Linked DNA regions of Homo sapiens: region 2 is linked to region 1. Evidence: fine-mapped expression QTL. A gene starts in region 1. The other region holds a variant in brackets. All regions are shown on one strand. Distances are between the middles of the regions. Region 1 holds the start of ATP13A3 (ATPase 13A3). Region 2 has its middle 38 kb from the start of ATP13A3-DT.

Evidence for each region.
Region 2: its variant is fine-mapped to the expression of ATP13A3 in whole blood (INTERVAL, PIP 0.98).

The regions. Positions count from the first base shown.
Region 1 is chr3:194,477,773-194,494,154 of GRCh38, reverse strand. ATP13A3 (ATPase 13A3) reads left to right here and starts at 7,153. Exons shown (of 34, transcript NM_001367549.1): 1 at 7,153-7,589; 2 at 8,320-8,361. ATP13A3-DT (ATP13A3 divergent transcript) reads right to left here and starts at 7,015. Exons shown (of 2, transcript NR_033929.1): 1 at 6,983-7,015; 2 at 5,610-6,699. RefSeq lists enhancers at 1,870-1,919, 1,960-2,009, 2,020-2,129, 3,881-4,000, 6,134-6,353 and silencers at 7,024-7,683, 7,714-7,763, 7,854-7,913.
Region 2 is chr3:194,516,633-194,533,014 of GRCh38, reverse strand. No RefSeq gene overlaps it. Among named protein-coding and RNA genes, the nearest start is that of ATP13A3-DT, 38 kb to the right of the region's middle. RefSeq lists an enhancer at 11,941-12,235. The variant C/A (reference allele first, on the strand shown) is at 7,813.

The DNA of each region.
Region 1 (16,382 bases):
GATGAACTCATTCTGGTGAATCACTCTGGCTTCATTTGGTTATAGTGGTCAAGAGTTTGGCCCTGGAGCAAAGTGTCTGGGTTTGAATCCTGGCTGTGCTTTCGGGTGAGTTATTGAACACCTCTTTTTCCATTCTGTAAAATGGGATTTTTAAGCTTTCCTCAATTTGTAAGCAGAAATAATCTTCCTCAATTTGTAAGCAGAAATAAGCTTTCCTCAATCTGTAAACAGAAATAATAGTACCTCCTTCCTAGAATTGTTATAAAGGTTAATGAGATCATATATGTAAAGTTTCTTCGTCTATGAAAATGAACAGAATAGTCACTACTACTTTTAGTGTTGGCATCGTTGTGATGATTAAATGAGATAACATATGAAAGTATTCAGAACCTTAGGAAAAAAACATGAATAAGGTAGACTCATGGAAAACAAAAACACTAAATAGGTGCTTATTCAAGGTTGTAAATGCAGTGAGACAAATATGCACTAAAGAGGGATTCTTTTTGTTTTGTTTTTTGAGATGGAGTCTTGCCAGGCTGGAGTGCAGTGGCGTGATCTCAGCTCACTGCAAACCTCCACCTCCGGGTTCATGCGATTCTCCCACCTCAGCCTCCTGAGTAGCTGGGATTATAGGTGCCTGACATCACACCTGGCTAATTTTTGTATTTTTGGTAGAGACGGGGTTTCATTATGTTGGCCAGGCTGGTCTCGAACTCCTGACCTCAAGTGATCCACCTGCCTCGGCCTCCCAAAGTGTTGGGATTACAGGGGTGAGCCGTGCGCTCAGCTAAAGAGGGATTCTTAGCCTGGGAGTCAGGGAAGGCATTTAGAGATGATATCTGAGATCGTAAATTCATTCATTCAGTCATCCATCAGGTGCAAACATTTGAGTGTCTATCACATGCCAGGCTTCATCTAGTGCTGGGTCTACAGTGATAAGCCAAACTGACTTATTCTTTACCAGTAGCAGCACAAAGAGATGGTTTGGGTGGGGATGGGGGATTTTTTTTTTTTTTTTTAAGAGCTGAGATCTCACTATGTTGCCCAGGCTGGAGTGCAGTGGCACAATCATAGCTCACCATAAACTCAAACTCCTGCGCTTAGGCAATCCTAGAAATCCTCCCACCTCAGCCTCCCAAGTAGCTGGGACTACAGGCACCTGCCACTGTGCCCGGGTGAGAAGGATATTTTATGTGCCTGTTTCCCATAATCCCAAAAGTCCTTCTCACATTTACAAAAATAAACAACCATTATTTTTTCAATCTTACATAAGTGTCATACAACCACAGCCTTGAGATAAATACAATAACAACACAATAAAAATACTATACATAAAAATATGTTTGCATAGAATTTACATCGTATTATAAGTAATCTAGAGATGATTTAAAGTATAGATCACGGGTTGTGGTGGCTCATGCCTGTAATCCCAGCACTTTTGGAGGCTGAAGCAGGTGGATCACCTGAGGTCAGGAGTTCAAGACCAGCCTGGCCAACATGGTGAAACCCTGTCTCTACTAAAAATACAAAAAATTAGCTGGGCCTGGTGGCGGATGCCTGTAATCCCAGCTACTTGGGAGGCTGAGGCAGGAGAATTGCTTGAACCCAGGAGGCGGAGGTTGCACTAAGCCAAGATCATGCCATTGTACTCCTGGGTGACCCAACGAGACTCTGTCTCAAAAAAAAAAAAAAAAGTACACAGGAGGATGTATATAGGTTATATGCAAATACTATACCCTTTTATCCAAGAAACTTGAGTATTTTTGGATTTTGGTATCCACAGAGGTTCTGAAACCAATTCCCTGTAGATATCGAGGGACAACTGTATATGCATTTAAGCCCAAAGTTGAACTTATAAGTTAGTCAGGCAAGAAAAAAAGGGAAGGGAAAGAATAGATTGTACAAAGACCGTGAGTCAGGAAAGAGGTTGGTGCGTTTGAGGAATTGAAAGAAGGCCTAGTGTAGCTGGAGTAACTTGGGGAAGGGGTCTGCGGTGAGAAGACGGGGAGAGCAGAGGAGTGCCAGTGGAGGGGGAAGTGGTGGGCAGGTTACATCCTGCACTGGACTTTGTGGACCCAAGAAGTTCATCTAGTATTCCAAGTGAGGTGGGAAGCAAGTGAAAGCTTTTATCAGCAGCTCTGCTTGAAGTCACATAAACTAATACTCTGGCTGCTGTGTGATAATGCACTGGAGGTGGGCAAGGGCAAAAGCAGAGGAACCCACTGGGAGCGAATGCACTAGTGCCAGGTGAGAGATGAGGGGGCATGCCAGGTGAGAGATGGAGGAGGCATGCCAGGTGAGAGATGAGGGGACATGCCAGGTGAGAGATGAGGGGGCATGCCAGGTGAGAGATGAGGGGGCATGCCAGGTGAGAGATGGAGGGGACATGCCAGGTCAGAGATGGAGGGGGCATGCCAGGTGAGAGATGGAGGGGACATGCCAGGTGAGAGATGAGGAGGCATGCCAGGTGAGAGATGAGGGGGCATGCCAGGTGAGAGATGGAGGGGACATGCCAGGTCAGAGATGGAGGGGGCATGCCAGGTGAGAGATGGAGGGGACATGCCAGGTGAGAGATGAGGAGGCATGCCAGGTGAGAGATGAGGGGGCATGCCAGGTGAGAGTGGAGGGGACATGCCAGGTGAGAGATGGAGGGGGCGTGCGAGGTGAGAGATGAGGGGGCATGCATTATTCTAGTGGCAGTGAAATGGAGCAATGGGGAAGGATTTGAAATGGACTTGGTGTTGGATTGGATGGGGTGGTGAAGGAGAGGGAGGTGTAAAGAATGACTCCCAGGTTTTGGGCTTCAGCAGTTGTTTGGGTGACAGCGTCTTTGCTAAGGTCAGGAGGCCCAGGAGAGAGGAGCTGATTTGGGGAAGAAAGGCAAGAGTTAAGTTTGGGATAAGTGAACTTATCTGGCACCAGTGAAACCCCATGTGAAAATGATAGGGAGGAATGGCCAAGGGACTCTGAGGAGTGGCCTGGGCTGCAGGCATATGGTTGACATTCTTTTTGAGATAGAGTCTTGCTCTGTCATCCAGGCTGGAGTACAATGGTGCCATCTCAGCTCACTGCAGCCTCTGCCTCCTGGGTTCAAGTGATTCTCCTGCCTCAGCCTCCCAAGTAGCTGGGATTACAGGCGCACGCCACCACGTCTGGCTAATTTATGTATGTTTAGTGGATGGGGTTTCACCATGTTGGCCAGGCTGATCTCAAACTCCCAACCTCAGGTGATCCGCCCGCCTCGGCCTCCCAAATTGCTGGGATTAAAGGCGTGAGCCACCATGCCCAGCCTCAGTTTACAGTTATTAATGTACATGCAGATGACAGCTATAGCCATAGTAGATGAGGCCACCAGGGGAGAGCATGTGGATCAGTCCTCTTATCTTTTTTGGGGGACCCAGACACCTTTGAGAAGCTGCTAAAAGCTCCACTTCTTCCTTTAAAAGTATTTGCATCCAAGTTTAAGGAGCTTATAGATCCTTCTGAAGCCCATCCACAACTCTTGTAAGGTCAAGAGATGTCAAATTAAAAACAAACAAACAAACAAAAACACAACAAACCTTGTGTAGACACAGGAATGGATCCTGGGTTGAGCCTTGGGGAACAGCAACATTTAGAGAAGGACAGAGGAAGCACCTGCGGAGGCTGAGATGGAGTAGACAAAGAGAAACAGGGAGGAGGAATTCCAAAATAGAGTATGTTATCAAAACTAACAGCAAAGTGTCTCAAGGATAGGAGATGCATGCTGCTGAGAGAACTAGAAAGATAAGGCCTGCAAAGTGTCCTCCGGATTTGGCAACAGTAATATTTTGGGGAGGCCTAGCCCCTGGAGTTGGCCTAACAGTGGTCATTTTGTGGAGAGCTAGCTCTGTTAGGAGGAGGCTTTGCCTCTCTGGAGTGGGAAAATAGATCCTGGGGCCGATGTAGGATGATGCGCAGATTTGCGGGTGGGAAGATGAGGATTTTTCCTCTTGATGGTGTATGTTTTCTTAGTGAAATAGGAAGTAAGGGGACAGTGAGAGGGAAGGGCATGCAAAGATGGGGGTTTTGAGGATGAAGAAGATGCAAAATAGCCTTTCTGAGAAGTGACGTCAGACCTTACTGGTATGACTGTTACCTCCATGCAGCTGCAATCAGGGTTGGTGCTTACAGTGAGTAGGATCAGAGGGGGGAAGCAGTGGGCTTGGACCCAGAATCATCATGACTTGAGAACCAGTAAGTCTTCCAGGACTTCTCCAGACTGTTCCACTCCCTTTCTCTCGCCTATCTTGGGTTTCTCCTTTTTTCTTGCACCTTCTTTTCCCTCAACCCATAAACATGCTCAAGCCTTTCCTGGTGACTCAGCACTTCCTCTAAAGCCAGTGTCCAAATTCCTTTTTTCACCATTCTCAAAACATCTGTAACAGAAAAGTTTTTGGAATATCCAACTGCTTTTCTCTTTTTCCTATAGCTTTCCCTTGACTGGCTGTATGTTGCCTTACTTTGGCTGCACCTCGAATTCTGGGGCTCTTTGTGATCTTTTAAAAGCCCGAACGCGTTGACAGGTTCATGCTGGGTAGCTTGGAGGTATACACTGCAGCCAGAAGCCTAGGGAAACTCTTAGGATTTTAAATGGAGTGCATTGTAGTTCACTCTGAAGGCTGAATTTGTCTAACAATTCAGGCTGGAAAGGATGGATGCCAGTGGGAACCACCGTAGGAATTTTTTTTTTTAGATGGAGTTTTGCTCTTCTTGGCCAGAGTGGAGTGCAATGGCGCAATCTCAGCCCACTGCAACCTCCATCTCCCAGGTTCAAGCGATTCTCCTGCCTCAGCCTCCCAAGTAGCTGGGATTACAGGCATGTGCCACCACGTCCAGCTAATTTTGTATTTTTAGTAGAGATGAGGTTTCACCATGTTGTCAGGCTGGTCTTGAACTCCTGACCTCGTGTGATCCACCAGCCTCGGCCTCCCAAAGTGCTGGGATTACAGGCATGAGCCACTGCGCCCAGCCCACCATAGGAATTTGAGGCTTATTAAGGAGGTGAAATAGATAGGACTTGGTGATTGGGTAAGGCAGAGGGCTGAATTAAGAATGACTCACTCATTCCCAACTTTCTAATTCTGATGACTGTGGAGATGGTGGTGCCAACAGCTGAGGGAGGGGCAGCTATGAAAGCAGAGAATGAGTTCAGTTTTGGAAATGTCCAGTTTGGGGTGTCTGTGATATCTAGCTAGAGCTGCCTGGCAGGCAATTGGATATTTGGTTCTAAATTTTGTGGAAGGGGTCTGGGTTGGAAATTGCTAATTTGGGAGCTGCATCCATGAGGATGCAGGCAATCCCAGAAGAATGAGTGAAGTGAGCAAAGTTGTTGGCTTAGAGTGGAATCCTGAATTTAAGGTGCAGATTCACAAGTAGATGTTACCAAGGAGGCAGAGGCTTTACTTACCTTCATGTGATAATCCAGAGGGTTCACTCTTCTGAAACCAAGGTAGTAGAGAGATTCCAGAAGGTGAGAGTCATCCCAAGGTGTCAAATGTAGCAGAAAGAACCAGAGAGATAAGGCCTGAGGAATGCCTGCAAGGTTTGGCAAAATGAAAGTCATGAGTTGCTCTTGCCTGAGCAAGGTGAAGGGTTAGAGTTGGGGAGGAGAAGCCAGAATGCCAAGTGTTGAGAAATGAGGAAGCAGAGGCAGCCAGGGAAGACCATTGTTTGAGGTCCGCATGAAACACTTGGAAGCTAGTTGGAGGGAGCACTTCAGGAGGAGGTTGGCTTGATAATTTTGTTTTTAGGACTTGGAGAGGCCAACCTGTTTAAAGGCTGAGAGGAAGCAGCAAGGCAAGGAAGCCTGGGAGGTGGGGGAGGAAGATTTTAGGGCCAGACCCCACCCAGACCGTTTTCTTGTGGTTTGCCCAACACTACCACACACCCCTTAATCTCATTTAATCATTTCAACACCACGAGGTTTGAAACAAACGGTGAGGTATGAAACAAAACGGTGAGGCCAGGGATTGGGAAGAGAAAGCTGTGGTTCCATCTCGGTCCAGCGTGCTGTCCACGCCAAGAGGCGGGCAGAAATGCTAGCCTCACACAATCTAGGGGACCAGGGGTGGCTGTGGCGCCCTCCTGCCCGCAGGAGGTGTTATCAGTGTCGCGGACTCGGGCGGTGTGCTGCCCCTGGTGAGATGTCATCACGTGCGTGGACCAGGGGTGGCGGCCCTGGTAAGTGTCCAGGGACTAAGGGCTCCCTGCTCTCCAGGTGTGGTGGACGGGGTCCGCATGCATGCCGTCCTCTTCTCTAAGACGCTAAGGCGGCTGAGTTCTGTAAGTAGCGGCAAGAAGAACAGTCACGGAGCGGGCCGGGCACAAAGGGCGCAGGCCAGGTGGCCCCAGGCGGAAAGATGGCCGCAGCCAGAGGCTGCAGGTGGCCGGGCGCGCTCCCTGCGCGCGTCGCGGAGAGGACGCAGCGAAAATCAAACCCGCGATTTGGAAATCCGGCTGCGGCCCTACCCCGAGATAAGTCTTCTGCGGAGGGAAGTATTTAATTTGCATCCAGGACGGTCGGAAGAGGCGCCTTCCCGTCGGAGGCGAGGCGCGGGCGCGTGGGAGCTTTCTCGTGTGCGCTCCTCCCTGTCCTCCGCCTGCGGCCGGGGCGCAGAGTCCGTGGTCATATGAGAATGACAGTTTTTTGTCTGTTTGTTTTGGCGGGGGCGAGGGTGGCTAAAGGAATGAAAGAGCCTTGCATTAGGAGCTGGGCTCTGGTTTCCTCTCCACCATTCTAGCACAAGCTTCCTCCATGACCATGACTCTGGGCAACGTCTGTCTAGTCACTGAGCCTCAGTTTCCCTGTTCATAAAATGGGAGATTGGACTATGATGTTGTCATAGCCCAAAGGGGATGAAGTGGGATTTGCCGTTCCATTTCATCCCACCAGAAAAGCCGCCCTCCATTAGCCACCCCGGGCTGACACCCAGCGTTTTTGGACGGCCTCGCCTCCCCTTACCTGCCTCTTTCTTTCTTTTGCCCGTTCGAGGGTGGCAAAGGCGATGGGTGGGCGGGGCCTATAAATCGCCCCGCCCCTCCCCGCCCCTTCCCCGCCTCCTGACGTCGCCCGCGCCCCTCCGCCCTCCGCGCGGGGATGAAGCCACCACGTGACCTCACATCCGGCGCGGGAGTCCTGAGCCCGCGCGCGCTCCCCCGCCTGCCTGCCGGCTCTCCCCGCAGCGTGATCGGGCGCCGCCGCGGAGGGGAGGGGGGTTCTCTACGTCGCTGGCGGCGGGGGGGCCGTTTCGGAGTGCAGACCGCCCCCCTCCCCTGCCCACCTCCCGCCGCCCTCCCTTGTTCTCGCCCTGCCGGCTGCACGCCGCCGCCGCGGGCGCGGAGGAGGAGGAGAGCGCGGACGTCCCAGGGCCGGCCCGGCCCCGCCGCGGCGCCTCCTTCCCTCACCCTGAGCCGCAGCGCGCGGCGCCGGCCGAGGGCGATGGGGCTGGGCTGAGGCGAGGCGGCGGCGGCGACAGCGGCGGCCGGGTCCCCCGCGGTCCCTGGGGCTGGTCCGGCCGCGAGGGAGGCCGCGGAGGAGGCGGCGCGGCGGCGGCCAGTGAGCGGCCCCGGTGAGCGGGGCGAGGGGCGGGTGGGCAGCGGCGCCGGGGGAGGTCGAGGAGGCGAATGGTGGTGTCGGGGCGGCGGGTACCGGGCGAGGTCGCGGCCAGCCTTCTCGGGCCGGAGTTGGGCATCGCGGGGACGGGGAGTGTCGGGGGCAGGTGAGGCCAGGGCAGGAGCCCACGCGGTGGGTGCGAAGGCCTGGGGGGGACGCGCCGCCTGCCGGGGGCGAGCGTGGGGGCCGGGCGCTTGGTGGTTGGTAGTCAGAGCTTTCGGAAAGTCCTGTGGGAGGTGGAGGTCCTGTGGGCAGAGGCGTAGGGGTGCTGGCAGGGCCCTCGATGAGTCTGTGCGGGACCCTAGCTCGTCCTCAGCCGTGGAGTATGGAGCTGCTTGCCATCTCCGCATTTCACAGATAAAAGGAGTGAGTCCCGTGGAGGAAAAGTGACTTCTGACTTGCCTGAGGCCTCCCACTCGGACTCTGTGGCAGTGAGGACTAGAAAAACCCAGGGCCCTTTGCCCTAGCAGTGCTCTCGTGGCCACTCTCGCTATGGCCTTTCTGTCTCTCCATTCCCTTCACAGAGTCAGGTTCTGGTGGAAGTATGACCTCTGGCTTTTTTGGGGAGGTGAGGGGTAGGGATGAAGGGGGAGGGAATCGGGTTGGGATTGGCAGGAACTCAGCTGGGGGCTTCCCGGTGTGGAAGAAGCTTTGTGACAGGTGTTTATTGTTTCCTCTTCCCATAGATCTGACAGACATCCCTGAATCTTGGTGTTTGGACATAGGAGGTATGAATCACTCACATAATTAGCCGCTTTTAATCATCAGTGTCTTAGAGCTATATTTAGTGGTTATATTAGTGCAAAATGAATGGGTGTGGAGTCGTACACCTAGAAACAGACTTGTGTTCCTCTATACGATTCTAACTAAATGAGTAGAACATACCTGGGTATGTCATGGCTACTTTAGATCTATGAGGCAGGAAGTTAGAATTTAAGGAATCTAAGAAATGCAGGGACTTGAAAGATTATTGCAAAATAAAGCCTTTAAAAAGTATCGTTGTTAAAATGAAAGTGTTTCGATTTGATTCCTTTGAAGGGTGAGTACGTAATGAACAGTGCTCTATCTTTGGTTAGAGCTCAGCCTCTTTACCAAGGTACATGTATTAATTTTGTTTCACTGGAATATATGTGACATTATTTTCTCTAGAGGTTTGTTGCTTTGCTTAATAGACTACAGTTGCCAAAAATCAATGTGTGTGGGCATCTCATCCTGGTTTGCAACCCCTTTAAGGCAAATCAGTGCTTGGAAGTTGTTCGAAGTAGTAAACCTATTATTAATGATTGTTGTAGAACATAACTTTTGCTGGTATCTTTGATTTGCATTATCCTACCATTAGATCAGGCAGAGAGTGAAATAATTGAGATTTTGAGCCTTGTTAGAACAACAATGCCTGGCTTTGGTCAGGGGATTGGGTAGGAAAAGTGACACTATTTGGTTGCTTTAAATTTTTTTTTTTTTTTTTGAGATGGCATCTTGCTCTGTTGCCCAGGCTGGAGTGCAGTGGTGTGAACTCGGCTCACTGTAACTTCTGCCTCCTGGGTTTCAGCGATTCTCCTGTCGCAGCCTCCTAAGTAGCTGGGATTTCAGGTGTGTGCCACCACGCCCAGCTAATTTTTTGTATTTTTAGTAGAGACAGGGTTTCACCACGTTGGCCAGGCTGGTCGTGAACTACTGACTTCAGGTGATCTTCCTGCCTAGGCCTCCCAAAGTGCTGGTATTACAGGCGCTAGCCACCGAGCTTGGCGGTTGATACTTACATAGTTAGTTTAGGTCACCAAATATACAACACACAGAATCCGCTTTGGATAAACCACATTATCGAGCTCATTTTGAAATCCTATTTCTGTCTTCAAGATTTTCGAGATTATAAACCACTTTGTTGTCATTCACAAGTATAAAGTTCTTATTTCCAACATCACTGAGACTGAGAAAAAAGACAGAATAAAGATAAAGTTCCATAGGGCGTCCCCATCACTGCTTATTCTCACTGAGTTTGACCATTGAGTAGGTTGTATATCCATAGTAATATGATATAGTGCCTATGTCCTAAGATTACTATTTATCTTAGGAATAAAGCATATTCATATTCTAAAACCTCATATTCACAGTAGTTACAAAACCACCACGTTATACAAGCATAGTTTGATTCAATATATGGAATGGAAGAAGGAAAGAAACCATTATGTGCCAGGAAAAGTGCTCCTTTCTTTACATATGGTCTCAACTAATCCTCAACACTTTCAGGTAACAATATTCTTCTTTGTTAAAAAAAAAATTAAAGAAGTTAAGGAGCTTACAGTATAAGCGACTTTGAAGACAGACAGAAACCTAGCTCTGTGTTAATGTGCTTAACACAGAGGTTTCTGTCTCTGGGTTTATAAGGTTAGTTGTATGTGACTAGGCAACATAACATCTCTGAACCTCAGATTCTGGTGATAAATCAGATATGTCATCTTAATAGGTGTCACACACTAGATCACCTTCTTTTAGCACACAACTGTGAACTGTTTTGACTGTTTTCTTTGATAGGTGATAAGCTGCCAACTCCTATTCCATTTATCATCCATTCAAATATAGCTCAGTTTAACTCTTAGATATGTTGTACTCATCCTTTTCTCCCTTCTCTCTCCCTCCTTAGAATCACATTTCTTATTTTTTAAAGTTTTAAAAACATTTTTTAATACTGCTTCTTGCAGAACAGGGCTGCTCGATAGGCAGTGTGCCTGGAGTAGCCAGAAGAAATTAGAAATTAAATTTCTTCTTGGTGTTACCTCTGAATGTATTCTGAATATGCCATATCTCATCTGGATCCAAGAGGTAGCTGATGGGATTTAGCCTTGGTTTTGGAACATAGTTTTTGTGAAAATGAAGCTAATTGGCCTATGGAGAGAGTAAATCTGTAGTCGTCAAAACCATGTTGAGTTTTTTTGAGATAGGGTCTTGCTCTGTCTCCCAGGCTGGAGTGCAGTGGCTCTGTCATGGCTCACTGCAGCCTTGACCTTCTGGGCTCAAGCAGTCCTCCCACCTCAGCTTCCAGAGTAGCTGGGACCACAGGTGTGCACCATCACACCCAGCTAGTTTTTTTTTTTTTTGTAGAGGTGGGTTTTCACCGTGTTGCCCAGGCTGGTCTCAAACTCCTGAACTGAAGCAGTCTGCCTGCCTTGGCCTCCCAAAGTGTTAGGGTTACAGGCATTTATCACTGCACCCCGTCCTTTTTTCTTTTTTTTTCCCCCCAGAGAAAGAGTCTCGCTCTCTCACTCAGGCTAGAGTGTAGTGGCACGATCATGGCTCACTGCAGCCTTGAGTTCCTGGGCTCAGGCGACCTTCCTGCCTCAGCAACAAGGGTAGTTGGGACAACGGGTGTGTGCCATCATGTCTGGCTAATTTAAAAAAAAATTTTTTTTTTTTTTTTGAGACGGAGTCTTGTACTGTCATCCTGGCTGGAGTGCAGAGGCGCGATCTCCGCTCACTGCAACTTCCGCCTCCTGGGTTCAAGCGATTCTCCTGCCTCAGCTTTCCGAGTAGCTGGGATTACAGGTGCCCACCACCATGCCTGGCTAATTTTTTGTATCTTTAGTAGAGACTGGGTTTCACCATGTTGACCAGTCTGATCTTGAACTCCTGACCTTGTGATCCGCCTGCCTCGGCCTTCCAGACTGCTGGGATTACAGGCGTGAGCCACCACGCCCGGCCTTTAAAATTTTTTTGTAGAGATGAGTATCTCGGTTTGTTGCCCAGGCTTGTCTCAGAACTCCTGGCCTCAAGTGATCCTCCTGCCTCAGCCTCCCAAAGTGTAGGAATTACAGACATGAGCCACCTTGCCCAGCCAAAACCATGTTCTAATTAACCACTTAAGTTCAAATAGCATGCAAGAAGCAAGGAAATTGTTAGGTTCTCGTTTGAGTTTTGTTGAACATCATATTTTGAGAGTAGAGAAGTAAGAGAGGCTCAGATTTCTGGCACATAATTTTAATTAAGATTTAGGTTTAAAAAAATGAAAAAGTTCTGGGCTCAAATTAATCTGGAGAAAAGTAGATATTTGTAAGGTAGAAGAAGGTCCACAGTTAATCAGTTATCACTAGATAACTAGTGATTATAAAAGGAGTTAAAACGATTTGTGTTAGTAGGTTATGCACAGTGACTCATGCTTGAAATCCCAGTGCTTTGGGAGGCCAAGGCAGGAGGATGGCTTGAGGCCAGGAGTTTGAGACCAGCCTGAGTGACAAAGCAAGACTTTGTCTTAAAACAACCAAAAATAATTTGTATTAATCAGGTTAAAAATAGAGGTAAAATGAGATGACATGAGTAAATGGTAATTGGAAAAAATGATCACTGTTATGATAGTTTAAAAAATGACTTTATGGTAATCAGTAAGAAGGGAGAAAAACGGAATAAAGGAGAGAACTGTCCAAATAAGTGTCTGACACTGAGGAAGGTTGTTTGAGGATGGTGATTGCTGAAAAGTTTCCATAAAATGATTCTCTAGAGGGAACTATGCCAATACCATATCTGTTAACATCTTAGACCCACAGGGTCATATTGGAACCTTTGCTAGAGTCTGAGATGGTAAAACATTAACTCGAATAGTAAACGTCAAGACCGCAAAATTAATCTGTTAATCAGAATTTTGTCTTTTTTGTTGATTCTTACACTTACTCCCTGTGGATCTTGGTTTTAAATGATCAATTGACACTCAGAGACTAGTTAGATAAGAAATTAAATTTCCAGAAAAAGTCACTTAAGTATGTAAAGTAGAATTTCCTAATTATGTGGTCTGGAAATTGCTGATGTCTACAGAATCTTTCTCAAGTTTGAAGTAAAAATACTTGTAACTGATGTTGGGTGGTAAGGTGAAAGATGGTTCTAGCTCAGTGAGTTTTTCTTATTTTTTTTTCACAAAGGAGTTGAACATTGAAATAAAGAGGTGTGAGACTGGAAAATAATGCGGAGAGATCATGGATTATTTAGATTAGTGCCTTTTTAGAGAAGAGGAAAGTGAAGTAAGTGACAGCATAAAGGATCCTTTATGGTCTAACCCCAGATCCTTTCTCTAGCTTGGGTGTTCCTTTCACCCTTGCTTTAATTTTGTACTCTGTAGTAATGGCACATCTCAAAACTTTTGCATTTTTTTTTTCCAGTGAGAGCCAACTTTTAAGGGTTGCCTTTGCTTGCTTGACAGACTTCTTGAAACAAACTATTTTTAGTTTGTTTAAAATGAGTCATGGAATTGCTCCCACATATGTGTCTAAGGGTGGTTTCTTCATAGCATCCCTGTTGCTCTGTTTTTTTTTTTTTCCATTTGTGAAATAGGATGAAATATATTTTAGTTATTTATTTTGATATAAAAGACAAGTGTTTTGGGTCCTGATTTTTTTCTGATTGATCTAAAGAGCTGAATAAAGTGCAATCACTGCTCATGGGGCCTTTGGGCCTAAATTCTCAGATAAAAATCCTGTGTAGTCAAAATTACCCTTGGAAAAAGTCTTTTAAAAAGGCACCAGTTTGAAAACTGGTTGGAAACTGACATTCTGTCTTTCAATTCTAGTGTCCAGTTTTTCCTGTAGTTTTAGAGAGGTCCCTTTTTTGGTGAGCTGGAATCCTCACCAGCTGTGTGAGACCGTTTTGACAGGTGAATGGGTCTTAGATTGACTGAGCATAGCGGATTTATAGTCTTCATTTCATGCTCACTCTGGGACAGGGATGTAAAGGAAGGCATACTATCATCATTATTCAAATTATTTTTCTCTGTTGCTTCCCCCCAGAGTGTAAGTAGTTGAATTGGTTTTAATTAAGTGCATATATGATGTGACTCCACAGTGTGAATAATGGAGAAATAACTTAGGTATTTATGAACATCTGCTATCTCCGTAAGGTTATGCCACAAAAAGATCTAGTATAATTAAAAGGCTAGGTAATAAAGTTGAGAATATTAGGAGATTATTGGTACTGTCTGTCATTCTGAGGGGATACTCAACTACTTTGAGTGTTTTTGTTTTGTTTTTTTAAAGAATAAATTTATTCCTTACTGCTAGCAAGATCTGCATTGTTTTAAAAGAGCGATGTAAATTATTAATGGATTCCATGAAATTTAAAGTATCTAAACTTAAGTATTACTCTGGGGATAGCACAGTAAGAAAACATGAGTATGTAAAAACATGATGGTGGCTAAAAACTTAACAGTCTTATGTCCTGGGAGAGGGCATGGTGTATTGGATAAAAATGTGGGCTTCAGAGCCATAGTGATTTTGAATTACAGCTCTGTCACATACCAGTCTTGTAGTCTGGGTTAAGTAAGTCACTGAACCTCTGAGAGCTTTTTTATTTGCCAGATAGAGGTGATAAAGGGTACCTTAGAGAATTGTAAGGATAAGAGTCTGAGTGAAGGGTAACTTATTATTTGTTAACTTAGTAACATTGAAGATATTCAAAACAAGTCAGATGTGTGTGTGGGGTGTGATTGATGATTGCTCTTTGTTTTTTTGTTAACTGGAACAGCAGGCAATAATGTTATATTCAGGCTTTTTATGTCCAAAACAATCTATGATTTTGTATCTTTAGTAGCAACATCCTCAAAAGCTCAAGATGTTAACCTCATGTATCTCCGATATACATTTTATGTATATTTTAGTTTTTCTCTTTGTGTCTCTGGTGTGTTTGCAGTCTGTTTTCTCTCCCATCTTGTTACTGTTACCCAATGTCTCTGTCTCTGACCACCTTATAAAATTTAAAACTATCTGTAATTGTATTTATTTTATAGGACTTTATATGCATTATTTTCATTTAAAAATTCTGATTAGTCAAATATTTCTACTTTTTTTTTAAAGAAGACTTTGAATTATATTTCAATTTTGTGACCTTTAGATTTCTTTAAACATGGAATCCTAGTCACTGGTTCCTTATAGACCGAAGATTTTTCTTTTTTTTAAATTTTATTTTATTTTACTTTATTTTTTTAGACCAAAGATTTTTCATTCATCTCTAGATCATGCCTTAGCTTCTTAAGTCACCAGTTTTCTAAGCTCATTTACAATTTTCATCTGTAGTTTCCTTGTTTCTCCTTTTTTTAATGTTTATGTTTCTAATTTTCCTAAGCACAAAAGATAGAAACCTATTTAATGCTAATTATAATAAGTAGATTAGTATACTAAGTAAAATGTAAAGTACAATAGGCAAATGACATAATTTTGTCTGTAGCACTTACTTGAAAGACTAGACTAACCTAGCACACGCTTAATTGAAATATTTAATGGGTCTTTTTGATATGAAAATGTACTTTTCATAATTGTCAGCACTGCCTTAGAGTTAGTTGAAGAATAATTTTAAGCTAACCCATGGTTTTCTGTTCAGTGTTTGATGAAGAGAATAGAATAAGCTCATTAATTTAGTCAGATTCAGAAGCATCTTAAAGAGTACCCCCCGCCCCAATCCTTTCTAATCTCTGGTGCGGCCCATAGTGACTCACTATTCTTCATGTTCCCTTAATAGTTGTGGCAATGATAAGTTATTGTAGTGTATAAGAGTTGTGATTTTATAGGTAGCAAGGAAGGGGGCTTGGTTAGGGCCTCTTGGTTATGCCTTTAGGACTGTGTTGGTACTTCTAACTATTTAATAGTGTTTTAGTTCCTGTACATGCCAAACACAGGGCTGGATGCTGGGGAGACATCGATGAATGAGTTCTTCTCTCTTACACATACACAGTCCAGCAGGTAAACACTGTGCTGTTGCATTGCACAAGTCCAGAGGATACCATTCACGTTGTATTCTTCAGGAATATGGCTCCTTGGCCTGGCCTAGGATCTCTTTCAGGTGACAAAAGTTCAGAATCTCCATCACCTACAAGATAATCTGTATTGTTTATCATGTCTAACAAGACCCTTCCTTATAATCTGATCCTGTCCTATCCTTCTAAACCTCCATTTGTAATTATTCCTCAAAGGCTATCACCCCGTGCACCAGTCAGTTTAAATAACTTGTTTTCCTGGCATTTTTTAGGATCTCTCACTATAGTACCTCTGCATGTGGCAGTTCCCCTGCTTGGGTTTCATCTCTCTATTTTCTCCCTAACATTTTTCCTCTTACTGCTTGTTTGCTTGATCAAGTTTACATCCTTCTGGTCTTAGATCAAGAGATAGTTCTTTTTTGAAGTCTTTTCTGTTCTTGGTTCTCTCTTTCTCCCTGGTGCCATTGGTCACCATTTTGTTTGATATTTGTTTGCTTACTTATTTGTCTAGCCTACTAGATGTGGTTCCTTAAGGTTAGAAATTTAATCTTGTAACCTCCAGCATTTAGACCACTAGTTGGCACATGGTAGGCAATACCATTCTAACAAATGAGTTTTTATGAAATCAAATTGGCAATAAACCAGAATGATTATTGCTAGAATGCTAATTTAATATTTACAGATTTATCTGAAAAATTAGGATACTTGACAACATCTTGGTTTTCTGATTTAATTTACCTTTTTCTAGTCAAGCAGTAGTTTGGGGTTAGATTTCAGGGAACTGCTTGGCTAGAGTGAAGACACTGTTTTAAGTTCATTGGTGAACATGTTGGTGAGAACTTTCTGTCTGCTGAAGAATTAACCATAAGTGGTCTCAAACTAAAACAAAGACACAGAGGTATTCAACCCAAGAAGAATGGATGATCTGTAGGATGGTAGTGTCTGCCCCAGCTCTGTCTCTACCTGTAGCACTCACTGCAGCTAATCTGTAGGAGTGGATGAAGTGAGGTGGAAACACTTCTGGGG
Region 2 (16,382 bases), 39 kb before region 1:
AGTTTCCCTGGTTGGGAATACTCTGAACAGACTATCACACATCAGTGCTGGTAGGAAAACACTTTCCTGAAGATAGTGGCAGTTTCATGTTTGCAACCCTCCCAGACTTCACCCTACGTGTCTCTTCCTTTGTCTGGTTCTAATTTATATCCCATTGCTATAATAAAGCTGCAGTGGTACACACAGCACTTTCCTGAGTTCTGTGAGTCATTCTAGCAAAGTACCAAATCTGAGAGTGGTTTTAGGAAGCCGCAAACTCGCAGTTGGTGTCTGAAGTCAGGGCAATCTTATAGGGATTGTTCCGTCTGACTGTGTGGTTTGGGTAACTCCTTACAGATACCAAGGCAATTCACTGAGAAAATGGACTCTTTTGCACATGTCATACTGTAATTATTGATATCCATATGTAAAGAAATGAGCCTCAACCCTTACCTCATAGTATCTGCAAAAACTAACTTGAAATGAAAAGTAGACCGGAATGTAAGAACTAGAACTAGAACTTTTCTAGAATAAAATACAGAAGAACGTCTTTGTGACCCTGGGTTGGGCATATATTAATATATTAAATAGACCACAAAAAGGAAAATATGATGACTAGGTCTTCATAAAAATTTTAAAAATTTGCTCTTCAAATAATACTGTTAAGAAAATGAAAAGGCAAGTCTGGGGTAAAATATCGGCAAAATATGTATCTGTCAAAGTATTTGTATCAAGAATATAAAAAGAATTATTTGGCGGGTGTGGTACCTCATGCTTGTAATCCTAGCACTTTGGGAGGCTGAGGCAGGAGGATCACTTGGATAGTCATTCTAGCAAAGTACCAAACCTGAGGGTGGTTTCAGGAAACCCCCAAATTTGCACACTTACAAACTTGTAAAAAAATCCAATTAGAAAACGGGTAAAAGACATGAACAGACATTTCCTGAAGAAGCTATACAGATGGCAAATAAGCACATGAAAAGAGTTCAACATCATTAGCCATTAGGGAAATACAAAATAAAGCCACAGTGAAATATTATTTTGCATTTTGCATGTAGCATAATAATATTTTTTATTTTAGGCTGGGCACGGTGGCTCATGCCTGTAATCCCAGCACTTTCGGAGGCTGAGGTAGGCAGATCACCTGAGGTCAGGAGTTCGAGACCAGCCTGGCCAACATGGTGAAACCCCGTCTGTACTAGAAATACCAAAAAAAAAAAAAAAAGTTAAAAAGATATTTTTTATTTTTGCCTAGCAGAATGGCTAAAATGAAAAATAATGACAACACCAAATGCTGGCAAAGATGTAGAGAAACTGGGCCACAAAAATTGCTGGTAGGAATGTGAAATGATACAACCACTCTGGGAAAAGGTTTAGCAGTTTTTAAAAATAAAACCGTGCGGGCTGGGCGTGATGGCTCACACCTGTAATCCCAGCACTTTGGGAGGCTGAAGCGGGTGGATCACGAGGTCAGGAGATCGAGACCATCCCGGCTAACACAATGAAACCCTGTCTCTACTAAAAGTACAAAAAAATTAGCCAGGCGTGGTGGCGCGCGCCTGTAGTCCCATCTACTCGGGAGGCTGAGGTAGGAGAATTGCCTGAACCCAGGAGGCGGAGGTTGCAGTGAGCCGAGATCTCGCCACTGCACTCCAGCTTGGGTGACAGAGGGAGAATCCGTCTCAATAAATAAATAAATAAATAAATAAATAAATAAATAAAACTGCATGAAACTACCATACAACCCACAGTTGCTCTCCTGGGCATTTATCTCAGAGAAAAGAAAACTTACATTCACACCAATTGTTCATAGCGACTTTATTCATAATAGCCAAAAACCAAGTCATGGTATATGCACAGGACGGAACACTACTCAGCAATAAACAGGAGCAAGCTATTGGTGTGTGTGTGTGTGTGTGTGTGTGTGTGTATATGTAATGAATCTCATATGTAATGAATCCCTAGGGAATTAGGCTGAGTGAAAATAGCCAATCTTTACAAATTGTATATTGTATATTGTATGCTTACATTTATCTATATTACACTCTTGAAATGACAAAATTATGGAGAAGAGACTAATAGTTGCCAGGAGCTGGGGGCGGGGAAAGAGGTGAGTGTGGCTATAAAAGGGCAACACAAGGGGTCCCAGTGATGATGGAACTGCTCTGTGTCTTGACTTCATCAATGTCAACAGCCTGGTTGTGATATGTTACTATACTTTACAAGATGTTACCACTGGGGGAAGCTGGATCAAGGGATCTCTCTTTTTTTCTTTTCTTCCATAAGTAAGGAAACAATCTCTGTATTATTTCTTATAATGTGAATCTATAATTATTTCAAAATAAAAAGTTAAATTAAATAAATCTGTACACAAATGTTTATAGTGGTTTTATTCATACTCATTAAAAACTGGAATCAATCCAAATGCCCAAGAACTGGTAAATGAATATATAAAATGTAGTAAAACCTTACAGTGAAATGCTACTCAGCAATAATAAAGAATGAACCACTGATATGTAAAACACGAATGAATCTCAAAAGCTTCATGCTATGTGAAAGGAGTCAGACTCAAGACTATCTACTATATAATTCCATTTATGTGAAGTGCTAAAAAAAAGTCCAAAATCTTAGTTATAAAAAGCAGATTAGTGGTTGCCAGGAGGCAGAGGGTAGGGGTGTAGAATGACTGAAAAATGTTTCAAGGTAATTTTTTGGGGGTAATGAAAATATCCTATCAATTTCATGATTGTGGTAGTGACTATATGATGGTATATTTGTTAAAACTCATTTATTGTGCACTTAACATTGGTGAATTTTATTGCATTTAAATTGTACCTCAATAAAGTTGACCCCAAAATTGGGCTAATAAATTTAGACTATTTTGCGACTTGCTTTTTCATTTAACTATATGTTGTGGACTTCTGGCTTCCAGACAGAGAGCTTTACCTCCTTTTTAATAGTTCCATAGTCTTTCATTGTATGGATGCAGCACAATCCCACAATTAATTTAATTAATCTTTCCTTGATGAGCATTTCTGCTGTTTCCAATTTTTTATTCTTTTTTAAATTTATTTATTTTTTTTGAGACGGAGTCTCGCTCTGTCACCCAACCTAGAGTGCAGTGACATGATCTTGGCTCACCGCAACCTCTGCCTCACAGGTTCAAGTGATTCTTCTGTCTTAGCCTCCCGAGTGGCTGAGATTACAGGTGTGCGCCACCATGCCCACCTAATTTTTGTATTTTTAGTAGAGACGCGGTTTCACCATGTTGGCCAGGTTGGTTTCAAACTCCTGACCTCAGGTGATCCACCCACCTCAGCCTCTCAAAATTTTTTATTCTTACAAGTAATGTGATGGTTAACCTTTTCATGTATCTTTGTATACCAGAGAAATTGTTTTTATTGAATAGACTTCTAAAAGTGATATTTCTCGGTTTAAGGATATATGTAATTAAAATTTTTGGCCGGGTGTGGTGGCTCACGCCTGTATTCCCAGCACTCTGGGAGGCTGAGGCGGGCAGATCACCTGAGGTCAGATGTTGGAGACCAGCCTGGCCAAGATGGTGAAACCCCATCGCTACTAAAAAAATACAAAAATTAGCTGGGCATGGTGGCATGTGCCTGTAATCCCAGCTATGCAGGAGGCTGAGACAGGAGAATCGCTTGAACCTGGGAGGCAGAGGCTGCAGTGACCAAGATTGCGCCACTGCACTCCAGCCTGGGTGACAAAGCAAGACTCTGTCTCCAATAAATAAATAAATAAATAAATAAATAAATAACATTTTCGTGTGAAGCACCAAAATGCCTGACAAAATAAGGTTGTGTCAACTTGCACTGTGATCAATAGTGAATGAGTCCTGTGGCTATTTCTAAGGCATTCTTTCTAACCTTATTTACTTGTTCCTTTTCCCACAGCCTTTTCATCCAGTTGACGTTTTTCTTTTCACAGCTCTCTGTAGGATTTCTGTAGCTCCAAACCTTGACTGTTGATGCTTTGTTAGGGCCTGTAGAATGACCTCGTTATTTGAGGATCATTCGATCAAAAAGGAGCACATATGATGGTGGAGAGACAGACATGAAAAGCAATTACTATATAGCATGAAAAATGACAAGAGACTTGTATATTACATATACTGATAATAATGATGAAAGAGAAGATGATGTTGTTGCTGATAATAGCTAAAAATTATTTAGCACTTACTATATGCCAGGAAGAAGTCAAAGAACTGTATAGACATTAATTCATTTCATTCCCACAACAACCCTCGGAGGTAGAAATTATTACAATTTTCCCCATTTGGCCGAGCGCAGTGGCTCATGCCTGTAATCCCAGTACTTTGGGAGGCCAAGGCAGGCAGATCACTTGAGGTCAGGAGTTCGAGATCAGCCTGGCCAACATGGTGGAATCCTATCTCTACTAAAAATACAAAAAAATTAGCAGCGTGTGGTGGTGTGCACTTGTAATTCCAGCTGCTCGGGAGGGAGGCAGGAGAATTGCTTGAGCCCGGGGAGGCAGAGGTTGCAGTGAGCCAAAATCGTACCACTGCACTCCAGCCTGGGTGACAGAGCAAGACCGTCTCATAAAACAAACAAACAAACAAAAATTGCACCATTATACAAACCCCTTGGCTGGGCATTGAAAAATGAGTAGGAGTTAATTAGGTGAAGAAAGGGCATGGATTAGGCCACGCGGTGGCTCATGCCTTTAATCCCAGCACTTTGGGAGACCGAGGTGGGTGGATCACTTGAGGCCAGGAGTTGAAGACCAGCCTGGCCAACACGGTGAAACCCCATATCTACTAAAAATACAAAAATTAGCCAGACCTGATTGCAGATACTTGTAATCCCACAGCTACTCAGGTGGCTGAGGCACGAAGATCACTTGAACCCGGGAGGCAGAGGTTGCAGTGAGCTGTGATGGCACCATTGCACTCCATCCTGGGCAATAGAGTAAGACTCTCAAAAGAAAGAGAAGGGCGGGGGTAGGGGTGTGGAGAGAGAGGGAAGGAAGGCGGGGGGAGAGGGAAAGAATGGAAGCAAGGAAGGAAAGAAGGAAGGAAGAAAAGAACAAAAGAAGGAAAGAACAGAAGAAAGAAAGAAAAAGAAAGAAAGAAAGAGAAAGAAAGAGAAAAGAAAGAAGGAAGAAAGGAAGAGAAGGGGAGGGGAGGGGAGGGGAAGGGAGGGAAGGGAAGGAGGAAGGAAGGAAGGGCATGGATTAAATGGAATCCTAGGAAGAATGAAAAAATGAAAAATGTTTAGTGTGTACAGGCTGGGCATAATGGCTCACACCTGTAATCCCAGAACTTTGAGAGGCCGAGGTGGGTGGATCACTTGAGGTCAGGGTTCGAGACCAGCCTGGCCAACATGGTGAAACCCCATCTCTACTAAAAATACAAAAATTAGTCAGGCATGGTGGTACACACCTGTAGTCCCAGCTACTTGGGAGGCTGAGGCAGGAGAATAGCTTGAACCCAGGAGGCAGGGGTTGCAATGAGCCGAAATGGCGTCAGTGCACTTGGCCTCCAAAAAAAAAAAAAAAAGGAAGAAAAAAAACGGAAGAAAAGTGTGTACAAAGGCACACTTTGTATGATAAAACAAAGTGCATTCAGATGTCCTGTGAGTAATTTCAGATGGCTGACATCCAGAGGGAACTAGGGGACAGGAGAAGAAGAAGCTGGAGCAAGCTCATGAGTAAGTGGACGTGAATGTTTCTCATTTCCTCTTGCTAAGTGCTTTCTCACACACTACGCATTTTGCTGGCGCAATCTTACTAATTTGTACTTTCTGATGAAGTCCAGGGGAAGACTTCTCGTTAGGAAGTAATTCCCAGATTGAGATGCAAATGTTGAGAAGAGTCAACCAGACAGAAGAGGAGATGAGTGTTCCGGCAGAGGAAGCTGTGTGAGGTGTCATGGCTGCAATTTTTCTTTCTTTCTTTCTTTCTTTCTTTCTTTCTTTCTTTCTTTCTTTCTTTCTTTCTTTCTTTCTTTCTTTCTTCTTTTCTTTCTTTCTCTTTCTTTCTTTCTCTTTCTTTCTTTTTTTCTTTCTTTCTTCCTTCCTTCCTTCCTTCCTTCTTTCTTTCCTTTCTTTCTTTCTTTTTTTTTTTTTTTGAGACAGGGTCACTGCCCTGTCACCCAAGCTAGAGTGCAGTAGGGCGATCTGGGCTCACTGCAACCCCCACCTCCTGGGTTCAAGCGATTCTCCTGCCTCAGCCTCCCGAGAAGCTGGGATTACAGGCGTGCACCACCACAACTGGCTAATTTTTGTATTTTAGTAGAGATGGGGTTTCACCGTGTTGGTCAGGCTGGTCTGGAACTACTGACCTCAGGTGATCCGCCCGCTTCGGCCTCCCAAAGTGCTGGGATTACAGGTGTGATGAGCCACTGTGCTTGGCCCATGGAATTTCTAAGGAACTGGCTGGTATTGAGGATGGCTAGGTATAAAATGTAAAGGGGGAGGAGACACAAATGAGGCCAAATAGGGTGGCAAAGACCAATCCATGTAGGCCACATTAAGGAGTTCAAACATTATGGTGGTTATAAAACCAATCAATGAAAAAGAAATGACCAAATATCCCCTCTAGGCAGGCCATGCTCCGGGGGCAAAGAAGATACAATGATGCGCAATATGATCCTAGCCTTCCAGAGGGCAAAGAAGATACAATGATGCGCAATATGATCCTAGCCTTCCAGAGGGCAAAGAAGATACAATGATGTGCAATATGAGCCTAGCCTTCGAGAAGCATACAGACTAGCTGGGAAGGTAAAACATGAGCAAACATAAGGAAGGTGATCAATGGTTACTAGCCACATATAACAAGAGATAAATGTGAAATGTTGGAGTTTACAAGAGAGAAAGACAACTGGTTGGGTAAGAGGCAGGGACAGTGGTAGGGAGAAGGGACAGGAGTGGGGCCTTAAAGAATGGGTACACTAGGCCAGGCACAGTGGTTCACGCCTATAATCCCAGCACTTTGGGAGGCCGAGGCAGGTGGATCACCTGAGGTCAGGAGTTTCAGACTGGCCTGACCAACATGGAGAAACTCCATCTCTACTAAAAAAACAAAAGTTAGCCAGGCGTGGTGGTGCATGCCTGTAATCCCAGCTACTCGGGAGGCTGAGGCAGGAGAATTGTTTGAACCTGGGAGGCGGAGGTTGTGGTGAGCTGAGATCGCGCCACTGCACTCCAGCCTGGGTGACAGAGTGAGATTCCGTCTCAAAAAAAAAAAAAAAAAAAGAAAAAGAAAAAGAAAAGAAAGAGTTCTCAGTGAACACTTAGTGTTTCTCATTATTTTGCACCTCTTCTATTGAATGTAGTCATTCTCCTTTGTTAGGTCAGGAACCCATGAGAGCATCTGACTGAAAAATCACAGACCATCACCCTATCCAAAAATGCATATATGGGCCAGGGGTGGTGGCTCATGCCTGTAATCCCAACACTTTGGGAGGCCAAGGCAGGCAGATCACTTGAGGTCAGGAGTTTGAGACCAGCCTGCCAACGTGGTGAAACCCCATCTCTGCCAAAAATATAAAAAATTAGCCGGGTGTGGTGGCACACACCTGTAATCCCATCTACTCAGGAGGCTGACATAGGAGAATCGCTTGAACCTGGGAGGTGGAGGTTGCAGTGAGCTGAGATCATGCCACTGCACTCCAGCCTGGGTAGCAGAGCAAGACTCTGTCTCAAAAAAAAATGTATATAGGTACACATGTATATGTACCATTTTGCAACATCAGGATGCTGAAACTTCATAGGTGGCTGAAACTTGCAGTCTTCAGGTTGAGAATTCCTGTCCCTCTGTGTCCAGCAGACAAGTGCTACCTGAAGGCCATGA[C/A]GAATTGAGACAAAATTCTAACACTGCTACGTTATTGAGAGAAAGGATGAGAAGGTATGAAACAAATTTTAATGATGAATTTTTGTGGATTTTTGAAATGCATAAATGGGATGATTAATAATAACAAAAAAGCTCTGTTTATATCATCATAAAACACACTATAAATCTACGGGATTCAGTCTCCACTTGTATATCATCTGACACAGAGCTGAAGGTGGAGGAGAAAGGTTAACCCTTCTCATTCCCTTCCCCACCCCACATACAGTTGGCCTTTTCTGGTCAGGTTTCCGAGGCAGTAAGCATTTTTTTGAGCGCCTACAATGTGCCAGACACTGTTCTGGGCACCTGGGTAGAAAGAAAGATCTTGAAGACTCTTGCCCTGTAGGGAAGTTTATAGCTTGGGGAACAGTGGAGGAAGAACAGAAAAAAAATCACACTAATATTTAATTACTTAAAAAAATTGTTTTTTCAAGGCTGGGTGCGGTGGCTCATGCCTGTAATCCCAGCGCTTTGGGAGGCCAAGGCTGGCAGATCACCTGAGGTCAGGAGTTTGAGACCAGCCTGGCCAACGTGGTGAAACCCCGTCTCTACTAAAAATACAAAAATCAGCCGGGCATGGTCGCATGCACCTGTAATTCCAGATACTCGGGAGGCTGAGATAGGAGAATCGCTTGAACCCAGGAGGTGGAGCTTGCAGTGAGCCGAGTTTGCGCCACGTCACTCCAGCCTGGGTGACAGAGCAAGACTCTGTCTCAAAAAAAAAAAAAGTTTTTAAAACAGAGGCAGGGTCTTGCTATGTCGCCCAGACTGGTCGCCAACTCCTGGACTCGAGTGATCCTCCCGCCTTGGCCTCCCAAAGTGCTGGGATTACAGGCCTGAGCCACTGTGCCTGGTTCAAATCACACCAATAAAAGGGGTCAAAGGATGTGTTCAAATAGACTTGTGGAAAAGCTGAGGCAAAAAGAGGAGGTACTAATTTTGCCTGGAGGCAGAACTAGAAAAGAGCCCTGAAAAATGGGGAGGAGGGGCAAGATTCAGGAAGTATTCCAGGCGGGGAAGCTTCTTTTTCCCCTTTTAGCCATAGGAAGATAGAATTCCTGGGTCCCTCTTCCTGCCTCCACTAGTCTTGTCACCTGAGTTCCATACCAGCTATTTCAAAAAGAGAAAAGGCCCAAGGGTGTACAACCTTCCCTCCAGCAATAAGTAAAGGTGGTTACTATGTGCGAGGAGCTCTGCCAAGCATTGCCCAACTGTTACCTTTAATTCATACAACGGAACGGTGGTGTGTACTGTCACCATTTTCCTGAGAAAATTGGGTTTCAGAGCTAGAACTTGTCTCTTGTCACACAGTTATGGAGTGGCTAAGCCAGAACTGAAGCCGAGTCGACCTGACTTCAAAATTCACCTTCTGGCCAGGCATGGCGGCTCACACCTGTAATCCATCCCAGCACTTTGGGTGGCCTAGGCAGGGGAATCACTTGAGTCCAGGAGTTTGAGACTAGACCGGGCAACATGGCGAGACCCTGTCTCTACAAAAAAATGGAAAACTTAGCTGGGCATGGTAGCGCGAACCTGTAGTCCCAGCTATTCAGGAGTTGGGAAGATCTCTTGAGCCTGGGAGGTTGAGGCTGCAGTAAGCTGAGATGGCACCGTTGCACTGCAGCCCAGGTAGTCTGGGCACCACAGCAAGACCCTGTGTCCAAAAAAAAAGAGAGAGAAAGTCTTTATTTTGTTTGTTTAGCTTTTCTGTGGCTTCAGTCTTTAGTTTCCTTTTTGTTTATTTATTTATTTATTTATTTCACTATGGAAAATTTCTAACATAAAAGGAGACAGAATGGTATCATAAACTTCCACGATTCTATCACCTAGGTTCAATAATTAAGAATTCGGCCAGGCGCAGTGGCTCACACCTGTAATCCCTGCACTTTGGGAGGCCAAGGTGGGCAGATCACCTGAGGTCAGGAGTTCGAGACCAGCTTGGCCAACATGGTGAAACCCCGTCTCTACTAAAAACAAAAAATTAGCCAGGTGTGGTAGCACACGCCTGTAGTCCCAGCTACTTGGGAGGGTGAGGCAGGAGAATTGCTTGAGCCCGGGAGGCAGAGGTTGCAGTGAGCCGAGATCGCACCACTGCACCCCAGCCTGGGTGACAGAGCGAGATTCCATCTCAAAAAAAAAAAAAAAAAAAAAAAAGAATTCATGGCTAATCTTATTTTATGACTAATCCCTTCCTGGATTATTCTGAAGCAAATCATATCATGGCATCATTTTCACCCATAGACTTCAGTATGCCTCTTGGATCCCTTTTACTTGATAAGTTCCTCCTGCTTGTAATGTATTTGTTGAAGAAGCTGGGTCATTTATCTCATGGAATTTCTCACCATCTGAGTTTTGGCGACTGCATTCAGCAGTATCATTTAACACGTTCCCTGTCCTTGGCATTTCCTGTAAACTAGTAGTTGGATTTAGAGTAGTGACCAGACAGGTTAGTGATTTTTGGCAAGACTACTTCATGACTGTTTCTCATCGGGAGGCACTCATGTATTTGTCTTTTGACCGTCATTGATGATCAAAGTCCAGGCCTGTTAATTTACTAAAGATGGCAAAATGGTGATATTGTAATCCTTCTAGTCTTTCTCTGTTTAATAGCTGTAATACATCCAAAAAAGGTTTCCCTGATCGTCTATGCAGTTAACATAAGCTATATTTGTCACTGGAAAGGTAATATAAATGCTTCTCTCTCTTTATTTGCCAATTTTCAAAATAACAAATGGATCCCTAGCACCCACCAAAAGTGACCAATAGATTTAATTTTTAAAAAGCATGAATTCATGGTTTTAAACATTTGATGAGCTTCAATTCATCACAGTTATAATTCTTATTGATGCTCAGATTATCTTATTCTTTGGTTAGTGGGGGCCTCTTCAAGTTGACTGAGTCTGTTTTTTTGTTTTTGTTTTTGTTTTTTTTTTAAGGGAGGGGGTTACTATGTTGCCCAGTCTGGACTGGAACTCCTGGGCTCAAGCCATCCTCCAGCCTCATGCTCCTGCCTCATCCTCCTGAGTAGCTAGGACTATAGGCAACTAAGTCTTTGTGATATTTTCTTTTTTTTAAACAGGGTATCGTTCTGTCACACAGGCTGGAATGCAGTGGTGCAATCATGGCTCAAGGGACCCTCAAACTCCTGGTATCAAGCGATCCTCCTGCCTCAGGCTGCAGAGTAGCTGAGACCATAGGTGCATGTTACCATGCCTGGTTAATTTTTCAATTTTTTGTAGAAATGGGGGTCTCACTATATTTCAGACTGGTTTCAGACTCCTGGGCTCAAGCAATCTGCCCTCCTTAGCCTCCCAAAGTGCTGGGATTATAGGCATGAGCCACTGCAATAATTTTGGTGATTGCAACCAGCAGTATGATTTAACATGTTCTCTGTCCTTGACATTTCCTGTAAACTAGAAGTTGGATTTAGAGTAGTTGATCAGATTTAGGTTAGGGATTTTGGCAAGACTACTTCATGACTAATGTTTTTCATCAGGAGGCACATAATATCTGGTATTTGCCTTGTGAAATCACCCTATTGTTCTTGATAAATGCTTGATTATCAGGTGTATAATATGATGTTCCAGGCTCATCTTGTACATTTCTTTCCCAGGAGCCCAGATCTGGAATCAGCCATTTTTCTAAGGAGCCCTGCTTTCTTTTAGTAAATGGCATTTAGAGATCATATTCTGTGTGCAAGAAATGCTTGCTTTTGAATTGATGATGGTTTCTAGAAAGAATTTTTTACAAGCAAATACTTTATGGATTCTTACTAATAGTTCTATTTCAAATTTAGGTAAGACTAAAGTGTTTCTACTTAACTTTATTGATCTTATATCCATACCTGGGATGTAAAACATCCCACTTTTCAAAACAACATAATTACTCATTGCTTTATCCTATAATACATGCAAAACAGTCTTACCAACTGTATTAGTCCATTTTCATGCTGCTGATAAAGACATATGCAAGACTGGAAAGAAAAAAAGGTTTAATGAACTTACAGTCCCACATGGCTGGGACGGCCTCACAATCATTGTGGAAGGCAAGGAGGAGTAAGTCACATCTTACATGAATGGCAGCAGGCAAGAGAGACAGCTTGTACAGGGAAACTCCCACTTTTAAAACGATCAGCTCTTGTGAGACTCATTTACCATCATGAGAACCGCACAGGAAAGACCTGCCCCCATAATTCGATCACCTCCCACTGGGTTCCTCCAATGACACACAGGAGTTGTGGGAGTTACAATTCAAAATGAGATTTCGGTGGGGACACAGCCAAACCATATCATCCCGCCTCTGGCCCCTCCCAAATCTCATGTTCTCACGTTTCAAAACCAGTCATGCCTTCCCAACAGTCTCCCAAAGTCTTAACTCATTTCAGCATTAACTCAAAAGTCCACAGTCCAAAGTCTCATCTGAGACAAGGCACATTCCTTTCGCCTAGGAGCTTGTAAGATCAAAAGCAAGTTAGTTACTTCCCAGATACAATGGGGGTACAGGTATCGGGTAAATACAGCCATTCCAAATGGGAGAAATTGGCCAAAACAAAGGCGCTCTGGTCCCCATACAAATCAGAAATCCAGCAGGGCAGTTAAGTCTTAAATCTCCAAAATGATCTCCTTTGACTCCATGTCTCGCATCCGGGTCACGCTGATGCAAGAAGTGGGTTCCCATGGTCTTGGGCAGCTCAGCCCCTGTGGCTTTGCAGGGTACACCCTCCCTTCTGGCTGCTTTCATGGGCTGGTGTTGAGTGTCTGCCGATTTTCCAGGCACATGTGCAAGCTGTCGGTGGATCTACCATTCTGGGGTCTGGAGGACAGTGGCCCTCTTCTCACAGCTCCACTAGGTGGTGCCCCAGTTGGGACTCTGTGTGGGGACTCCAACTCCACATTTCCTTTCCACACTGTCCCAGCAGAGGTTCTCCATGAGGGCCCTGTCCCTGCAGCAAACTTCCTGGATATCCAGGCGTTTCCATACATCCTCTGAAATCTAGGCAGAGGTTCCCAAGCCTCAGTTCTTGACTTCTGTGCACCCACAGGTTGAATTCCACATAGAAGCTTCCAAGGCTTGAGGCTTGCACCCTCTGCAGCCACGGCCCGAGCTGTACCTTGGGCCCTTTTAATCATGGCTGGAGTAGCTGGGATGCAGGGCACCAAGTCCCTAGGCTGCACACAGCACGGAGACCCTGGGCCTGGCCCAAGAAACCATTTTTTTCCTCCTAGGCCTCTGGTCCCGTGATGGGAGGGGCTGCCATGAAGACCTCTGAAATGCCCTGGAGACATTTTCCCCATTGTCTTGGAGATTAATATTTGGGTCCCCATTTCTTATGCAAATTTCTGCAGCCAGCTTGAATTTCTCCTCAGAAAATAGAATTTTCTTTTCTATTACATTGTCAGGCTGCAAGTTTCTGAACTTTTATGCTCTGCTTCCCTTATAAAACTGAATGTGTTTAAGAACGCCCAAGTCACCTCTTGAATACTTTGTTGCTTAGACATTTCTTCCACCAGATACTCTAAATCATCTCTCTCAAGTTCAAAGTTCTGCAAATCTCTAAGGCAGGAGCAAAATGCCACCAGTCTCTTTGCTAAAACATAACAAGGGTCACCTTTGTTCCAGTTCCCAACAAGTTCCTCATCTCCATCTGAGACCACCTCAGCCTGGACCTTATTGTTCATATCACTATCAGCATTTTTGTCAAAGCCATTCAACAAGTCTCTAGGAAGTTCCAAACTTTCCCACATTTTCCTGTCTTCTTCTGAGCCCTCCAAACTGTTCCAGCCTCTGCCTGATAACCCAGTTCCAAAGTCGCTTCCACATTTTTGGGTATCTTTTCAGCAGCACCCCACTTTATTGGTACCAATTTACTGTATGAGTTTATTTTCATGCTGCTGATGAAGACATACCCGAGACTGGGAAGAAAAAGAGGTTTAATGGACTTACAGTTCCACATGGCTGGGGAGGCCTCACGATCACAGCGGAAGGCAAGGAGGAACAAGTCACATCTTACATAGATGGTGGCAGGCAAGAGAGGGAGGTTGTGCGGGGAAACCGTTTTTAAAATCATCAGATCTTGTCATTCACTATCATGGGAACAGCGCAGGAAAGACCCACACCCATAATTCAATCACCTCCCACTGGGTTCCTCTCATGACATGTGGGAATTGTGGGAGTTACAATTCAAGATGATGTCGGGGTGGGGACACAGCCAAACCATATCACCAACACGACCACATTTCTCATTTCATTACTAAAAATGGTTTCAGATATTTTACAAGGTTTTTTGGTTTGGTTGGACTGGGTTTAAGTTTGGTCATTAGGGGATCTCCCATTAGGAATATACAGTGGAATTCCTGAGTGTTAAGGTCATTTGCAATAGTTTCTCACTGTGTAGTTACACCATCAACTCAACAGATTGACTTGTTTCATTTTGTCAAGTCTAATTTGGTTTTATACTTTTCTAAAGTACTATATCCACAAACTTCCAACATAAATCTATAAAACAAGATATATTTAGAAAAGTCTAGCTTCTATCCCAATCCTCTCACTTTATTTCCTCTCTCCTCCTATGTGATGTATGGTATATTCATATTCCCCTCTCCAATGATAGCATATTATCAGAATTTTCTTCACCTGGCTTTTTACTCATTAGGTTATATTCTGGTGATCACAACATATAACATAGAAATATGCCTCATTTCCTTTCAAAGCTGCATGGCACTCCATTATGTGTAGGTATCTTAGTTTATTTACTCCGTTCCCTATTGATGGGCATTGAGTTATTTCCAGTCTTTTGCTACTACCAATGTTTCTGTAATAAATAGCCTTATGTATATTAATTTTTGAATTTTTGACTGTGTGCCGTTTTTATTTTTATTTTTTTTAGAGATAGGGTCTTCCTATGTTGCCCAGGCTGGTCTTGAGCTCCTGAGCCCAAGAGATTCTTCCACTTTAGCCTCCCAGAGTGTTAGGATCGCAGGCATGAGCGACCACATCCAGCTGAAAGTGTGTCTTTAGGATGGATTCGTAGAAGTGAGATTTCTAGGTCAAAAGGTAAATGTCTATCTAAAATTGCTGGATATTGCTGCATTGCTCAAGAAACTTATTCTGTTGTGGAAGGAATTATAATGAAGGGATTAGGAAGTGGAGGAAGAAAACTGAGACCTCCCTGAAGGGCTGACATCAACCTCCCTATAGGAAGGACCCACCTTGACAGGTGGTTTGTTCACATGCGGCTGAGAAGATTAGGGTGCTTTTCACCCTTCCCAAATCCTCACTGAAAGGAGGTGGTGCCACTCCTCACCCTGAACCTGTTGCCATGCGCTGCCTCACCAGCTCCTTAAAAGGAAGGCAGTGGTTAATGTTAAAGCAAAATGAATAAGCCTCATAAACTAAAAAGTGGAAAATAACCTAGCAACTTATTACCATCCAATTTCAGTCAGTTCACTCCCTCAGGAAAGCAAATTGCAATCAGGAGATGGTGCCATGCAACCTGCAGCAGCGCGTTTGCAGAGGACAACCCAGGGTCGAATGGGCCATCTCCCTTAGCTGGAAAGACGGCAGGCCACGTTTCTCAGCACTGTTTTTTTCAGCTTCTGATGACACTGAGGATCTCCTGGAGAGTTCCCTGGCAGCAGAGCAAGGAGTTTTGATTTCTGAGTGTTTCCCTGGAGCAAGGGCCTGCCCTGTTGGCTACAGGCACCGTCTGGTGAAGTGTAGATCTGCCAGGCTCCTTGATATGCTTGTTCCAGCAAACTGATGGCACTATCTCTGATGCCTCCACCAGATTTTGCCACTGTCTACCTTGGATGGTCACCCTGCATGGACAGGCCTGGCTTTGCATACAAGGCTATATATTGTGGGGGACTGGTCAGAGCGGTGGAAAAACTATAGGGAAAGGATGCAAACCTTCTGAAAGGTCAGAAGGTTCTGCAGAGCCTGGGGGGAGAATAGCAGAAAGCAGCTGTTCTATAACCCTGGGGCAGAGGGCAAGGAGTAGGTACAAGGGAGTGTGGGGGAATTTATCTTAAACAGGCTTGTTTACTTATGTTGACCAGGAACTGACTGTTGATCATCCGCGTGCATGATGTTGCCTGAAAAGGGAATGATAAATGTTAATTACCTGCAGGTTGTGTTGGCTCCAGGTTTTCGTCATTGTGCCTGCACTGAATAAAAGCAAGCAGCTCCAGCTCTCGGGCTGCTCTCTGGACACTAGAGCCAGGCAGTCGCCTAGCTGCTCTTACACTGCATACCTCTGTCTGAGTACTCATTTCATCTGTCAGCCAGGGTCTGCGGGACAGACCCAGCAATACATGCCCTGAAGACGGGGGTCCTGTCAGCATCACCTCTGGATCCCCAGGAATGCTGGTGCTGACACCAGGGTTTACCACCAGCTGGTAAAACTAGGGCAGCCTAAAAATGGGAACCCCTTCCAAGCCTTTTGTGAGGATTTACAGATGCAGAGCTGTGGTATGGAGCCCTTCGTAAAGTATCAAGTCAAATACAGATGCTCCTCGACTTAAGTTGGGGTT